Regions from separate parts of the Homo sapiens genome. Here region 1 is linked to region 2. Evidence: fine-mapped expression QTL. Tissue or cell type: whole blood. Region 2 holds a variant in brackets; the other region holds the start of a gene. All regions are shown on one strand. Distances are between the middles of the regions.

What was found. PIP is the estimated chance that this variant, and not a neighbour inherited with it, causes the effect. A credible set is the group of variants that fine-mapping cannot tell apart.
Region 1: ALB starts here. The variant in region 2 is the best candidate, but not a certain one, in a credible set for the expression of ALB in whole blood (TOPMed, PIP 0.56).

The regions. Positions count from the first base shown.
Region 1 is chr4:73,400,180-73,408,293 of GRCh38, reverse strand. It overlaps ALB (albumin), which reads right to left and starts at 4,007. Exons shown (of 15, transcript NM_000477.7): 1 at 3,888-4,007; 2 at 3,121-3,178; 3 at 1,533-1,665. The coding sequence starts at 3,966. RefSeq lists promoters at 3,967-4,372, 3,952-5,113 and enhancers at 4,340-4,379, 5,652-5,872.
Region 2 is chr4:73,262,159-73,270,272 of GRCh38, reverse strand. All of the region lies in intron 1 of ANKRD17-DT (ANKRD17 divergent transcript), which reads right to left. LOC124900180 (small nucleolar RNA SNORA3/SNORA45 family) reads right to left here and starts at 6,313; the gene lies at 6,189-6,313. The variant T/G (reference allele first, on the strand shown) is at 4,531.

The DNA.
Region 1 (8,114 bases), 140 kb before region 2:
AATCATTATAACAGAAATCAAGAGAAAATAAGCTTCTAAGCAGCAGGTGAATTCACCTAGGGGAGAAAAACATTCAGAGAGTTTCTCATTTCATTTGCCCCCTTTTTAGAGGGCCATGTTTTAGTATATGCCATTGAAAACTGAGGAGTAACACAATCCATCATATATTAAGTGACTATTAAGATATAGACATTTTTCTTCCAGAAATGTTACCTAAAATCACTTTCCAATAAATGAGTCCTTTCCTTATCTCTAATTTTTATTATGAAAGTAACTGTAACCCCAGGGAAAATATACTACTCTAGACAGAATTTATTAATTTTTATGTATTTTTAAGATTTCATATGTAGAGCCATAGTATTGTGTAAAGTTAAAGTCCTGACTCTGCTGTGAGGGAGAGGTACATAATAAAAAGGGGAAAGGCTCCAGTGATAAAAACTGGCCTTGCCCACAAGAGGTATATATAGATTGAGTGGTGAGAGAAAGATAAACCTGTCCTTGTTTTGAAGATTGATCTGGAAATACTAAAAGTTTAAAGTTCTTCAACATGACTAAGTACTCTGCTTTTTTATTGTATGTAGAAATACAAAGATATCTAAAATGAGGAATATATAGCTGTACTATTATTCCACCCAGGTAACAAAATTAGCATAGAAATCAGTGGGTGTTTTCTGATGATAAAAACCATGATATCATCTCTAAGAGATAGTAGCTCTCCTGTGTTCATTGCAACACTATTCATGATAGTCAAGATGTAGAAAACCAACCTAAATGTCTATCAATCAACAAATTAATGGATAAAGAAAATGTGGTACACACATGCACTGGAATATTATTCAGCCTTGAAAAGAAGGAAATTCTGCAATAGGCAACAACATGGTTGGACTTTGAATGCACTATGCTAAGGGAAATAAGTCAGTCATAAAAAGATAAACAGTACATAATACCACTTATATAAGGTAGCTAAAGTAGTCAAACTCATAGAATCAAAGAGTATAATGCTGGTTGCCAGTGGCTGGGGGAGGACGAAACGAGGGGTTACTAATCAATGGGCACAAAGTTTTAATACAGCAAGATGAGTAAGCTATACAACAGTGTACCCGTAGTTAACAATAATGGATTGTACACTTAAAAATATAACAGGGTAGATCTCATGTTAAGGGTTCTTACTATAATAAAATAAGATAAATAAATAAATAAATACATGCTATCATATCCCTATTAGCCTCTACAAAAAGAAACCAAACCTCAAATTTTAAAAAGAGGTGTTTATAAATGACAAATTGCCATTTAAATACACCATGACTGTTGTGTTTGGTCTCAATAAAGAAATGATTTTAAAACTGTGGACATAGCTAAAGCATCTCTATCACAAAAGAAACAATGGCTTATCAGTCTATGAGCAACTTTTTAGTGTTTCTTACAAATCAGGACACTTAATAATAATTGAGAAAACTTAAAAAAAATTCCTTTGAAATGCTTGGGATTACTTCAAACAGAAGAAAGAATCTCCACAATTAGAATGTACTTACAAGTGATTTGTCACAATTTTCAGCTGACTCATCAGCAACACATGTTTTTGCAAATTCAGTTACTTCATTCACTAATTTTACATGATCTTCAAATGGACACTGCTGAAGATACTGAGCAAAGGCAATCAACACCCTGAAACAAAGGATGTAGAAAAATGTAGTATAATAAAACTTTAATATGTAACAGGTTGCTACGCTAGAGAACAAATCATGTATGGGTATAGGTTCTATCTTTTATACATCTTCTTCACCATTATCCAGAAAGCCTATTCATATCAGGTATGATCTGAGGCCTAGATAGGCATATGTGGCTTCCTACGCAAAGAGAATGGTAGTTCCCTAATGTTTATATGTATGCGTGTGTCAGTAGATCTATGCACACACATAGATTAAGCAAGCAAATTGTATGCCAAATAGATCTAATTGTCAAGACTAGGCATTTTTAAAGTCCTTAGAATTACTTAAAACTAAAACAAACCCCACAGATTTCCTTTTTCTTTTTTGAGACAGAGTCTCACTCTGTCACCCAGGCTGGAGTGCAGTGGCACAATCATGGCTCACTGTAGCCTTGACCTCTCAGGTCCAAACGATCCTCCTACGTCAGCCTCCTAAGTAGCTAGGACTACAGGCATGTGCCACCATGCCTAATTTTTTTGTTTGTTTGTTTTGTTTTTTTTAAAGAGACTTGCCCAGGCTGGTCTTGAACTCCTGGGCTCAAGCAATCCTCCTGCATCAGCCTTCCAAAGTGCTGGGATTACAGGTGTGAACCACCGCACCTGATCCCCACACACGTCTTTAATTAGCCTGTAGGATTAGGTAGACTTTTAAAAAAACAATTTTCTCATTTTTTACTAGATTAAAAAACATTTAAATAGGCCGGGCGCGGTGGCTCACTCCTGTAATCCCAGCACTTTGGGAGGCCGAGGTGGGCAGATCACGATGTCAGGAGATTGAGACCATCCTGGCACACGGTGAAACCCCATCTCTACTAAAAATACAAAAGATTAGCCGGGCGTGATGGCGGGCGCCTGTAGTCCCAGCTACTCGGGAGGCTGAGGCAGGAGAATGGCGTGAACCCGGGAGGCGGAGTTTGCAGTGAGCCGAGATTGCGCCACTGCACTCCAGCCTGGGCGACAGAGCGAGACCCTGTCTTAAAAAAAAAAAAAAATTAAATATTCCCAACTAAGCACAGGAATGCTTGCTATGTAAAGAAGATTTAGTGGGTAAGCCACCAAAGGAAACCTATATTAAAGTCCTTTCCACCAAGCAAGTTCCAGAGCTGTACTGTCCAATACAGTAGCCATTAGCCACATGTGACTATATACATTCAAATTAACTACAATTAAATACAATTTAAGTTTTTGTTTCTCAGTTGCACTTGTCATATTTGAAGTACTCAATAGCCATGTGACCAGTGACTACCTTATTGGATAGCCCAGATACAGAATATCTTCCTCAACGCAGAAAACTCTACGAGGCAGCACTGTTTTAGAATCTGAACCCTGATGACAAGGAAATATAAGCACTTTAGAATAATAAACAACACTATTAGAAACATTAAATTTGATTCATCAATATTTTAACTTACAAGGCTTTGAAATTTTCTTCTCCCAAATCTTTAAACCGATGAGCAACCTCACTCTTGTCTGGGCAAGGGAAGAAAAAAAAGGATTGTTAAATACTGAAGAAAACAAGAAGTAATAATGTTACTTTTTATATTTCTTTCCATTTGACTTAGATTATGCATTTGTTTCAAAATATTGGGCTCTGATTCCTACAGAAAAACTCAGGATGATGTTCAATTATTTCTTCTGCCTTTAAACAGAAGAATAATTCAATTACCAAGAATACTATTTTAAAAATTATTAAATATTTATAGCCTTATATTCAAACTTAGATAATATCTAATACTCTTTTAGTGTCTATCAACAGCAACCAAGAAGACAGACTAAAATGAAAATAAATATAAATACAAGTTCTATTTATGAGATCAACAGCACAGGTTTTGTGGTTTTTAAATAAAGCATAGTGCAATGGATAGGTCTTTGGGATAGTTATGAATTCAATCTTCAACCCTATTCTGTGAAGTTTCAGTCACTCTAAGTTACTTTGCACTTTCCTTAGTGCGCAAAAGAAAATTACAGTCACTAAACAATTCTGACCTTTTTTTTTTTTTACCTAGGATGTTTGAATTTTATTAATAAGATAACCTTGTAAGACTTCACAAATACAAAATACTATGCCATTTTAGAAATAAATGCCAAAATAATTCTTTAAAGATGCAGAGTTTACTAAAACTTTATTTTACTGGGAAAATAGAATAAAAGTTGAACAATAGAAAAATGGATTTCTTACGTGCATCTCGACGAAACACACCCCTGGAATAAGCCGAGCTAAAGAGAAAAAGAAGGGAAATAAAGGTTACCCACTTCATTGTGCCAAAGGCGTGTGGGGTTGACAGAAGAGAAAAGCTAGGACAAACGGAGGGAAATTAGCACTAATATACTTCTTTAACCAATAATTGTAGATTATTAACTAGACTCATCTTTGTATTTCATTGGCTGCCAACCGATTACAAAATTCATAATATTCTTGCCAAAAAATTGTTTGACTAAATCCCTTGTGTATATTTACCATCTGGAACTGTTTTCTCCACAAGACCTTGTCAATGTATTAAAGTTGTGTAAAACATCTTATCAAATTTTACATAAGAGTTTAAACGATTTGTACCTTTTATTCATTACCATGGTATTTAACTGTAATTTCCCACTTGAACATTTTAGTTCTTGGTGTTTGCAATTTAGTTCTCAGTGTTTAGTAATTACTAACCAAACTAAATACTTTGCTTAGAAATAAGACATACTGAAAGAGTTAAGTCCCAAATTGCATCTATTGCTAATTCCAAGTGTGCTTTTACCTATAGATAATGAAAAATTTACACACAAGTACTCACGCATGCACACACACATATACATACATACATATTTTAGGGCTTCTGTGTCTTTTTTACTATTCCAAAGCCATTCTGTCTGAAAAAGCTGATGTTGCCTCAGATGCAAACTAAGAAAAAGACATAGCAACAATAACAAGTAAGATAGGACTTAGAAATTCCATGTTCCCATTCCTGCTGTGGCCCACATGTGATTCAAGCCCTGAGATAGGCTATTTAGATTCAGTGTGAGTATATCTCATGGGATCTTCAGTTAAGCAGAGATGGAGAGGAAAATGGACCCAAATGAGATGATGATTATCTTTGCCATAATATACAATAGGACAGGCTGACCCCAAATTCTCTGTAGGTTATGAGAACCCTTGACCTTCACCAGGCATAGGATTCTTTCCATCCCTGTTTCATATTTTTTTCCTTTCTCTCTTTCAATAAGTAGAAAAATCACATGTTCTTTTATGTTGCTTTAAATTTCAAAATAAATTTAACATTATGTCTAAAAACAAAGCGAAGGAAGAATAATTTTTTAAATATTTCATAAATCTTCCTTCCCTACCCAAGGTTCTTATCTCTACCTCAGAAAAGCTATCCTACCTCTGCCCTTTTGCTCAGAATATGAAGAACTACTGAGCTCAACCAGTAGGAAGAACAACTTTCTCTGATACTACAGAACAATAATTAGTACTAAGCCAGTTATTTTACTTAATTAAATAACTCAGTCAGTCAAAACCAGTAGTCAAATTTCCTCATGGCACATAGAGGCACAGAGACTAACAAAGTATTATTTTTTCTACTCAGTCTTATAATGAAAGAAAATTTTTTCTATTCAGTCTTACAATGAAAGAAATTATTTTCTATAATCTTATGTTATTTCTTCTTCAGAAATGGGTACTAATTAACTAATAAAGCACAGAAGAGGAAAAAATCAAAGCTAGATGGATGATAGATACATAGATAGATAGGAAGATTTTTTTTAATGACTCAAGGGAGTCCTGAAAGGAAATACCAGACTTGTCTTTCTGACTACAGATGAACAGACATAAAACAAGTGTGCCTATTTTCCATTGAAGAAAAACAAGCATTTTTTCTAAAGCCAGAAAAACCTACATCTGAAAAGAAAAAAGAAACTATTCTAAGTTAAGAAAATAATTCTTTCTTGGATAAATTATGTCAACTTTTAACTTCCTAGAAATTGTAGGCATTATTTATTAGAAGTCAGTAACCAACTCTAGCTTTTTCCTTGTAGAAGTCCCTGGGAAAGGCCTACCCAAACATAAAATCCTTACTGTTGAATACAATTGTTACTAATTGACAAATTCAGGCCTTTGTCACTCTCACATATACTTTGTGCATACTTTTTCATTTAACAAATGAAAAGAATAATATTAGTCCATTTAGTTTTCACCACAACATTATAATGTAATATATTGTTAAATACAAAGAAACCTAAAAAAATCTCAAATTCATCATGACTGAATAGAAACTTTGAATTGATTTTCCTATATCTAATGAAGAGCCCTAGCTTTAAAACAAAATTGATGAAACCTAAAAGAATCTTTTCTTTTTTTTTTTTTTTTTTTGAGATGGAGTCTCGCTCTTTCGCCCAGACTGGAGTGCAGTGGCACTATCTCGGCTCACTTGCAAGCTCCGCCTCCCGAGTTCACGCCATTCTTCTGCCTCAGCCTCCCGAGTAGCTGGGACTACAGGCGCCCGCCATCACGCCCGGCTAATTTTTTGTATCTTTAGTAGAGACGGGGTTTCACCGTGTGCCAGGGTGGTCTCGATCTCCTGACCTCGTCATCCGCCCACCTCGGCCTCCCAAAGTGCTGGGATTACAGTCATGAGCCACCGCGCCCGGCCAAGAATCTTTTCTTACAGTACTAATGAGGCATTTTGCATATGTGCATCCTACTAAAAGATTAATAGTTTAGAAATTAAAATATTTAATTCTCAATGATATCTGCATACTTAAAATTAATGTTTCTTAAGAAATACTTGAACAATTGCATCTTCTGGATTTGCAAAGTAAAAATTTCTGCATTTTTCTCTGAAAACCTCTGGCATTAATTCTATATGAACATTCTATACTGAGAGAAATAAACCTACATAATTGTTAGTCATTTCTAAATTTCCTGTTCTTCAAACTTTGAAACTCTGTTTAGTCAGTCATCAACGGGCTCTGGCATGAGGGTAAATGCAAATATTTAGAGTAAGAGTTATAAATATGGTTTAGAGATTCTCTTTACTCGGTAAACAGAAAAATAGCCCCAATGATTTTTAAATGTTTTCTCATCTTTGTGGGAGAAGTTTAAAAATAGAGAGTAGTTAAGAAAAGTATTTTCTTTAGAAAGAATAAGTGTACTGATCATTTAGAAAAGAAAAAAAAAATACCTCAATTGAAATGTACATATACCTGGGATTTAAACCTGAGCCTTTAACCCTTTTGTTCTTTGTTTTGCATTCACTTTGACGTGATACAAAAGGCACAGTTTTTAAGTAGATAAAATGTCTCTGAACCGGTCTCCCATTTTCCAGCCACTCTAACAGTAACTTTAAATCCGCACCCTTCTGCTACCCTCAGGACTCCCGAAGCTTCTCACTGAGTCATTCACACCAGGTTTGCCCTCCATCTAGCAATCCATTTAGTCCAGCTTTTATGCCATCTCCCACTCTGATAGGTTATATTTCTGACTCTTCTTCTCTTAAAGATAAAGGGAAACATATTCATGGAAATGTAATAATATCTAATAATATCCTCAATATTTTATAAGAGACTTTCTATAAACAACCACTTTACCCAGAGTCATTCCAAAATACAAGAAATTTGGATTTGTTTGGAGAGAAAATTGGGGACAGGAAAATCTTACCATTTTTCTACTATAAAATAAACATATGCAGATCCTTCCTATCATGAAGAGCTTGTATTACTCTCTACAAAATATGCAAGAGTGGAAAAGTGAAAGACTGTTAAGCATCAAACTAACCAATTGAAACATAATCAGTAATTTAACTTCTTATTCACTTATGGAGATACATTTCCCTCAAAAAAAGTTAGAATGAAAGTGTATAAACTTATATAAGTATTTCTAATGCAAATAAAAATGTATAAACATATAGGTATTCTAATGCAAATAAAAAATTGGAATATAATCCAAACAATTGCTCCCTTATTTCCCTCCATAAGCCATCCCCCCAGATATTCACTTGAATTAGTGAGAAATATGGAATTGGCTGAAGATTTCATAGGGAATGAGGAGAAAAAAGGTTATATCATAAAAACCACCCTAGGTCACCATCTTTGGCTTGTCCCACCTTTTAAGTCCCTCTGCCCCCAGATCTTCCATGATGAAAGAGTCCCTCTCCTTGACTTTCTTCATGTTACACTGGGCCTCTGGAATATATATACATTCGAATTTCCTAACCTTTTACTTTAAATTTCTCAGTTCTTCTCCGTGTGGTTTAATTCAGCTCAGTGTCAGTTTCTAGCTGCAGAACTGGACATGCAGATCTGCATATATCTCTATGCCATATGGGTCAAGTTGGACTAAATTATCTTTAACGATCCTTCTACCTTGAACATTCTGCAATTCCATGTTTTCAATGTGACAGCCTTATCAAATGAGAAAAGGACCTGA
Region 2 (8,114 bases):
TTTAGCAGAGCTAATACAATAATATACAAAAAGGATAATACATCATGACCAAGTGGGGTTTATCTCAAAAATACAAGGTTGGTTTGATATTCAAAAGTTAATCAGTGTAACTCATTGTAAAAACAAGAAAGAAAAATCCTATGATTATCTCAACAAATACAGAAACAGTATTTGAAAATACAAAATACATGCCTGACAAAAACTGTCAGAAAACAGAGAACAGAAGAGAACTTCCTTATATTGATAAACAGTATATGTGAAAAATCTACAGTTAACATCACACTTACGATCAGGAACAAGGAAAGGATATCGATCTTACCACTTCTAATCAGCATTGTAGTAGTGGTTCTAGCCAGTGAAGTCATGCAAGAAAAATAAAATCTCCATTTGGAAAATAAGAAGTATAACTCCCTTCATTCACAGACGGCATGATTTCTGTGAAGAAAATCCTATGGAGTGCATAAATAAGTTACTAGAACTAATACAGGAGTTTAGCAAGGTTCCAAGATACCAGATCGATATATAAAGTTAATTATATTTCTGTATATAGTAGAGCATCATTTCATATGTTTATTTTCCAGCCATATAGCTTACTTAGTGAATTGTCTATTCAAATATTTTGCCCACTTTTAAAAAGGTAAACATGTATCTATCATGTGACCCAGCAATCATATGAAAGCATGCCTGGTCGCAATCTTTTTTTTTTTTTTTTTGAGACAGAGTCTCGCTCTGTCGCCCAGGCTGGAGTGCAGTGCCGCGATCTCGGCTCACTGCAAGCTCTGCCTCCTGGGTTCACGCCATTCTCCTGCCTCAGCCTCTCCGAGTAGCTGGGACTACAGGCGCCCGCCACCGCGCCCGGCTAATTTTTTTTGTATTTTCAGTAGGGACGGGGTTTCACCATGGTCTCGATCTCCTGACCTCGCGATCGGCCCGCCTCGGCCTCCCAAAGTGCTGGGATTACAGGCGTGAGCCACCTCGCCCGGCTGCATGCCTGGTCACAATCTAATCTCGGGATGAATATGTGACCATACATGGCAAAGAGACTTTGCAGATATGATTAAGACAAGACTCTTGAGATGGGAAAGTTATCCTGCATTATGCAGGCAGACCTAATGTCATCACAAGGGGCTTTAAAAGATGGAAGAGGAAGGCGGAAGAGTCAGAGACAAAGTTATGATGGAAGCAGAGATTGCAGTGATGCGCTGTAAGATGGAGGCAGATGCCATCAGCCAAGGAATGCTGGTAACATCCAGGATCCAGAAAAAGTAAAAAGAATCAGCCCTGGAGTCTAGATAAGGAGTGCAATCCTGTCAACACCTTGATTTAAGCCAGTGGAATCCATTTCAGACTTCTGACCTCCAGAACTGTAAGATTATAAATTTGTGTTGTTTTAAGCCACTATCATGCAATTTATTGCAACAGCAACAGGAAATAAATACTGTTGACTTCTGAGAAGATTCTTTTGTGGAGCTTCTATTTTTACTTGGATAAATTTATATTCAGTACCAGAATGTAAAAAAAATGCCTATTATTATTCATTATCAAATTTATATAAATTTCATAAAAGGCCAGGCGTGGTAGCTCACACCTGTAATCTCAGCATTTTGGGAGGCCAAGGCAGGCGGATCACTTAAGGCCAGGAGTTTGAGACCAGCCTGGCCAATGTGGTGAAAACCCATCTCTACTAAAAATATAAAAATGTACTGGATGTGGTAGTGCATGCCTGTAATGCCAGCTACTCAGGAGGCTGAGGCACGAGAATCGCTTCATCCTGGGAGGGGGAGGTTGCAGTGAGCTGAGACCGTGCCACTGCACTCCAGCCTGGGTGACACAGCAAGACTCTGTCTCAAATACATACATATATACATACATACATTTGATATAACATTTAAGGAATCATAAAACAGAGATAACTTAATGAGCTTTGTCTTATAAAAATATTTGTCAAAGATCCTCTAAGTGGAGGCAAAAAAGACAATAACTGAAAACATTTGAGCTGAAATATTTAAATATTTAATAAGATAAAATCAGAATTGGGAATATACTCCATTTGGTATAATTTGCTCTGAGTTTACCAGATACCTATATTAACCTGTAGAGAGAGTATGTTCCAAAATTAAAATACTGAGGTAACTGAGAAGAGTCAGTTGAGGGCATCAGCAATTTTAAATTCATTAGCTGTAAAATGAAATGTGGAAGTTTAGAGATACTTTTATTAAAAATTATAATCATATAAAAATATATTCTTCAGAAGTAAAATATACCTGTAACATGACATGAGACAGATACAGTTAAGACAATGATTAAAATACATGAATATGTACAGAATTTATTATGGTTGTAACTTTTTAATGTATTGATAATCAGTATTAAGCAGTTTGTTTTCAATTTTCTCTAGTGTACCCAGATTTATTTTTGAAAATATTTTATTTAATTAATTAATTAATTAATTTTTGAGACAGAGTCTTGTTCTGTCATCCAGGCTGGAATGCAGTGGTGTGATCTAGGCTCACTGCAACCTCCGCCTCCCAGGTTCAAGTGATTTTCCTGCCTCAGCCTCCCAAGCAGCTGGGAATACAGGTGTGCACCATGACACCCGGCTAATTTTTGTATTTTTGGTAGAGATTGGGTTCCACCATGTTAGCCAGGCCAGTCTCAACTTCTGGCCTCAAGTGATCCACCCGCATTGGCCTCCCAGATTGCTGGGATTACAGGCATGCGCTGCTGTGCCCACCCTTGAAAATATTTTTTAAACAGAACTATCTTATAGGTTCACCAATATAATAAAACCAATTTGTCAACTCATACATATTATTAAACATTATGTATATTTGATTGATGCTTCATTTTATTCTTAAAGGTATCTCCATTTGGACAATAAATCATGTAGTCAATTATATAGTCAACCTGGGCATTAGGTCTAATAGTAATAGGTACATACACTGCACCTACATTGTTCTTGGACCTACGTATTCTGTTTACTAGGAGAAATGGACTCTGATTCCTGTAGGCCAGTACTTCCCAACCTGCAACTGGCATCGTAACTGAGTTCACTTTGTGAGTATGCTATACTAGTCCTACTGGAAGTATAGTTCACAAAGGTATGAGGGCTCCTCTATGACTGGGTTTCCCTGGAGTTTTTGACTCTCAGGCTTGTCCACAGTGAGCCTTCAGCATTTCATCAATTACAGTTCAGGTTTTCCTACCCCAGCACTGGTTCCCAGAGGTTTCTGCTCTGGTTATGATTTCCTGTATCTTCCTATCTGTCTCTCCAATTTTGAGGGCAGCAGTTTTCCCTGTGTCCTCATTTCTGATGAAGTTAAGAAGAGTTGTTGATTTTTGTTTGTTCAGCTTTTTACTTGTTATTAGGATGCAGTGGCAAGTTCTAAGCCCCTTATATGAGACTAGAAGCTCTGCCTGCTTTCAAAATTCATTGCTGTGTAAAAATATCAGTTTGCTTATGCTTTATTTTCTGGATTAAGTTACATGATATAAAACGTGCACATCTGAGGATCTGAGAAGATCTCTAGGTGAATTCCTGTATTTCAAGGGACTATTATACTACTTATTCCTTGCACAAAAGATATTCAGAGTTAAGCAGTTTGTAAGCTATACCCAGTGCCCTAAATAGTACTGTAGGTGCTGTATAAATACCATAGATACTTAATAAACATTTGTGGAATAATCTACAAATGAATGAATGAAAGATTTCCCTGGAACTCCTTGGATTCTTTCCAGTTTCACCAGATCACTCCCTAGTTTTCTAATAAACTCGATTTGTCCTGAGAAAGATAGAGGAAAGGAATTGTTCTAACTTTTAATATTGTTATTAGTTGTTAATATACTAACTTGGTCTGAATATGAACCTTGAAAATGTTTCTCCTGATTTTCAATTTGAAAGTACAAAATTCAGAAACTTGCAAATCTCTGTGTAAGGAGTTGTTCTATGCAATAACCACTCTAAGTCTTCCAAACAGTGACAAAAATTGCTAAACTGACAAACATAAAACAAAACAGAAAACTAAAATGTGGGTAGCTTATTTGTTTAGTAACAAGAGTTAAGTGCATTATTTTGTTGTAGATTATCTTTTGCATACTTTTATTCTCAAGCTGTCTTTCTCTGTTATCCAGGAATCTCTACGTTTCCCCATTCCCTTGTTCCCTTCTTTACCCAACCTAGGAGTACATGCAGAAAAACAATACTAATTTTAATTTCAAACTAAACGAATTTTAAGAGGTGAGATATATATTTGGGCAAATTTAACATGAGGGACATATTACCCAAATAACATTTAGTTGACTTTAAATGGATTTATTTAGGTAGCAGCTCTGTTCTACTAATGTGCCCAGTAGTTAATTACTATTTGTGCTAGACTGCCATCCCCAGCCTTCAGCTTAACTAATTTTTACTGGGCTCTGGTTCCAGAGCAGTGGACTAAGAAAATTATTAATGCTAGAGAAGGGTAGTAAGAGGGTGAAGGGGATTTCGAAATCATGCCATATAAGGAGTGATTAAAAAGAGAAGGATGT[T/G]TCCCTAAGGAAAAGAAGACTAGGGTAGATTCTTTATCAACATGTATCTCAAAACCCTTAGCATGGTCCACAGGCCCTGAATCATCTGTCTTCCACTTACTTCTCCAGCCTCATCTTGCAAACATTCTCACTTTCAGTGTTTCAGCTCTTTTGGCACAGTTTGATACCTCCTTTTTTAGGCCTTTTGCATATACATTCCTTTGGCTAGGAAGATTCTTCTCTGCTTTTTGGCCTATTTCCTACTATAGATCTCTGTTCACATATTACTTCCTCAGGGAAGCCCCAAAACAAAACAAAAGTTTCTAGCTCAGGTTTCCCTTGCAGCAGTTATTTCATTTGTGTGTCTCTCATGCTAGACCATAAGCTTCAAGATAGAAAGAACCGTGTTTGTTTTGCTAACCATTTTCTCACCTAACCCAGTGCCTGGTATGTAGCAGGTAGGCAACAAATACTAAGTGAATGAACATCCATGCTTATTCTGGCTAAATTGCTGTTTTCAACTCAAATGTCAAAAATTTCTTAAAAGCCCACACCGAAACAGTAACAACAACAAAAAAAGATAGGTGACATGAGTGAATAAGGACTGGGCATAATAGGAATTTATGGAAACTGTAGAGAATTGAAGACAGCATGCATTGTATAAAGGCATTCAAAAGTCAAACAACTCTGAAATGCTGTAATGACAAAGTATATAGCATGTTCATATATCACATTTGGCTATAGGCTGCCAGTTTGCAACACCTGTCTTAAGTAAATTGATATATTAATTATATATAATATTGTAGAGGGCATTTAATTCCATGAGAAAATGCTCACATATACTAAGTTTAAAAAAAAAAAAAAGCATGCTCCGGGATATCTTACTGGTGGATTGAAAAATAAAAATAAATAAAAAATTTTAAAAAGCATGCTAAATACAACAGTGGCATTCTCATTTAAAAATACACAGAGAAAACAACTGTGTAAAGGTTTGTACTAAAATGTCAACAGTGGATATCTCTAGATGATAGAATTGCATGTTCTGGTATGTGTGCTTTTTTGTATTTTCTTAGTATTTTACAATGAACATGTAGTGTTTTTGTACTCAGAAATAAATTGTTTTTACAAGGTAGAGAAGTAACTCAGGTGTCAATGTGGAGGATAAAGTAGAGTATAATAGGATCAGAGGCAGGGAGATTGACTATTGCAATAATGTGGGTGAAAACTCATGAAAGCCTAATTAAGGCAGTGGCTGGGAGGACAGTGGTTATCAATGTTACCTGGTCCTCTCTGCTTAAACATATGCTTCAATTTCTACTTGATTATAATTGCTTATGTTGGGCAAACTTTCAGGTGGAAAGCAGAGCACAAGCCACTGGCTCGCTGTTTTGTCTATTTTTTTATTTTTTAGCATTTGTTGGCATTTAGTGAACCTCTTTCCCTATGGCTTCAAGCCACCAGGACAAAGGTCCTCCCCACCACCGTCTTAATCTTTTTCCAAGCTCTTCTGCTACATAATTTGGCCTTCATGATGACAGACTGCTTTAGGAGATTTTCCTTCCCTAGCACTTTGTAGTAGCTCTAGAACAGAGAAAATAACTTACACTGTGGAAGGTACCAACTCCTTGATGGGAATGAGGAAAGATGCCTGCCAACCTACTTTCTAAAACCAAGGTACAGTATGTTTCTGCCCGGACACTTAAGGGGACACTGGTTGCCCCCATCAGTGAATCAAGACCAGCAGATGCTGAGGACTCCAGCACATTGGAGAAGAGCCGTGTCAGGATGTGACTCTAGTCTCAGAGAGCTCCTCTTTTGAATTCCCAAGTCTTCCTGGCAGTATCTATCCCTTACCTCTTGGAATTTCAATCGAGTAGAAACCCAGGAAATATTTCTCAATTCATGGGATATCTTCCCCTTCTGCAGTATCATTGAGACTGCCTCTGTTTCCCTGTAAGATTTCATTCTTAGGCAGGTTCACTCGACATGATGACCAAAGGCCAGATGTAGCTTGTGTTTTTTTTTTTTTTTTTTTTTGCTTATTCCAGAAGCAGGTGTCTTTTTCTTGATAGTGCTAGCCCAAATGATAAGACTATCTCTGATTAACTTCAGTTTTGTTAATCTGCCCATTCCTGAACTAATCACTATGGCTGAATGATAGGATACTTTGGCTAGCCTGATTTGTGGGCCTACTCCTGTGGTATAAAAATTAGAATTAGGTAATGAACGATTGCATCTGGAGAAAGAGGGACAGGTCTTTATTAGGGCACGCTCTGAAATCTCAGTGGCCTAACACAAAAGAATGCGTATGAGCTGTAGCACAAGTGTCCCTAATTGGCAAGCAAGTATCCTCCCAGTGAAGAGTCAGGAAACTCTAGCACAAGTGTCTCTAATTGGGAAGCAAGTATCCTCCAAGTGAAGATTCAGGAAACCAGGAGTCCTATCTTGCGGCTTTGCCATCTTTAACACATAGTTTCCAGTGCAAATTTGCTCATCTGCCTCAAGTTGATGGGGAGTGGGATATATTGGATTGCTCATGTGATGTTTCCATAGGCCAGAGCTGGAATAGGAGTGCATCACTTCTCACATTCCACTGGTTAGAACCTAATCAGCACACCTAACCCATATACCTAATTGCAAGAGAGGCATGGAAATATAGCTGTGTGGCCAGAAGAATTTAGCATTTGCAAGAATCTACTATTCTGATCACTAAACATGTATTTTACCTGTCTTTCCACACACAGAACATACCCTGTCCCAAAGGAGACAATCTAAAGTTTTAACCAGTTACTGGAACAGGCTCAAAGTCTAGGATTTTCAGAAAATGTGCAGTTCTCTTCATTAGGTACAGATGTGACCTAAGAACTAAAAAGACAAATTATCTTTATTGTCACCCCCATCCCTGCAAACCCAATATATAGTGGTAACTCAGGGACAGATAACTATAATACATTCTCTCATTCAGAAAAAAAATGTGATACTGAGCAATACTATTCATGTATAATAATGATGAAATACTGCATAAACATTTTGCGGCCCATCTCCTTGAAACTGAAGAAAGTTCTGATGAAACTCCAATTCTAGTCTTCAGGAGAAACTCCCTGTCCAGTCTTTAGTACAGCTCCTTATACGAGCTTCTGAAATGTTCTTTTTTTGTCCATCATTCTCCATGGCCACATCCTGTGTGGGTACTGGGGAGCTGTTAAGGTTTTATGCTCTATTTTTCTACTTATGCAAGCTTGGGGTTGGACAGTTACCCTCTGTTTTAACACCCGAACAATGATATTTGAGCCAGATTTAGTATGATTAATAAAATTCCTCTAAAAATGTAGTCTTCTGATTGATTTGCTTCTGGTAACTACACCCAAAGTTCTTTCTTACATAATTATCAAGCCTAATTTACTGCTTTGCTGCCTTGCTCCTATGCCAGTTCCTTTAGACCTTTATCGTAGCTATCTTGAAGCCATCTAAAATAATGACTTTGAATGGAAAGACCAAACCCTTTTCCTGATCTTTGTTGCAGGACTTAATCTCAAGGGTAACTATACTCAAGACCTCTTCTAGTTTTTTTTTTTTTTTTATTAGAAGTCTTATAAAAGTCAACT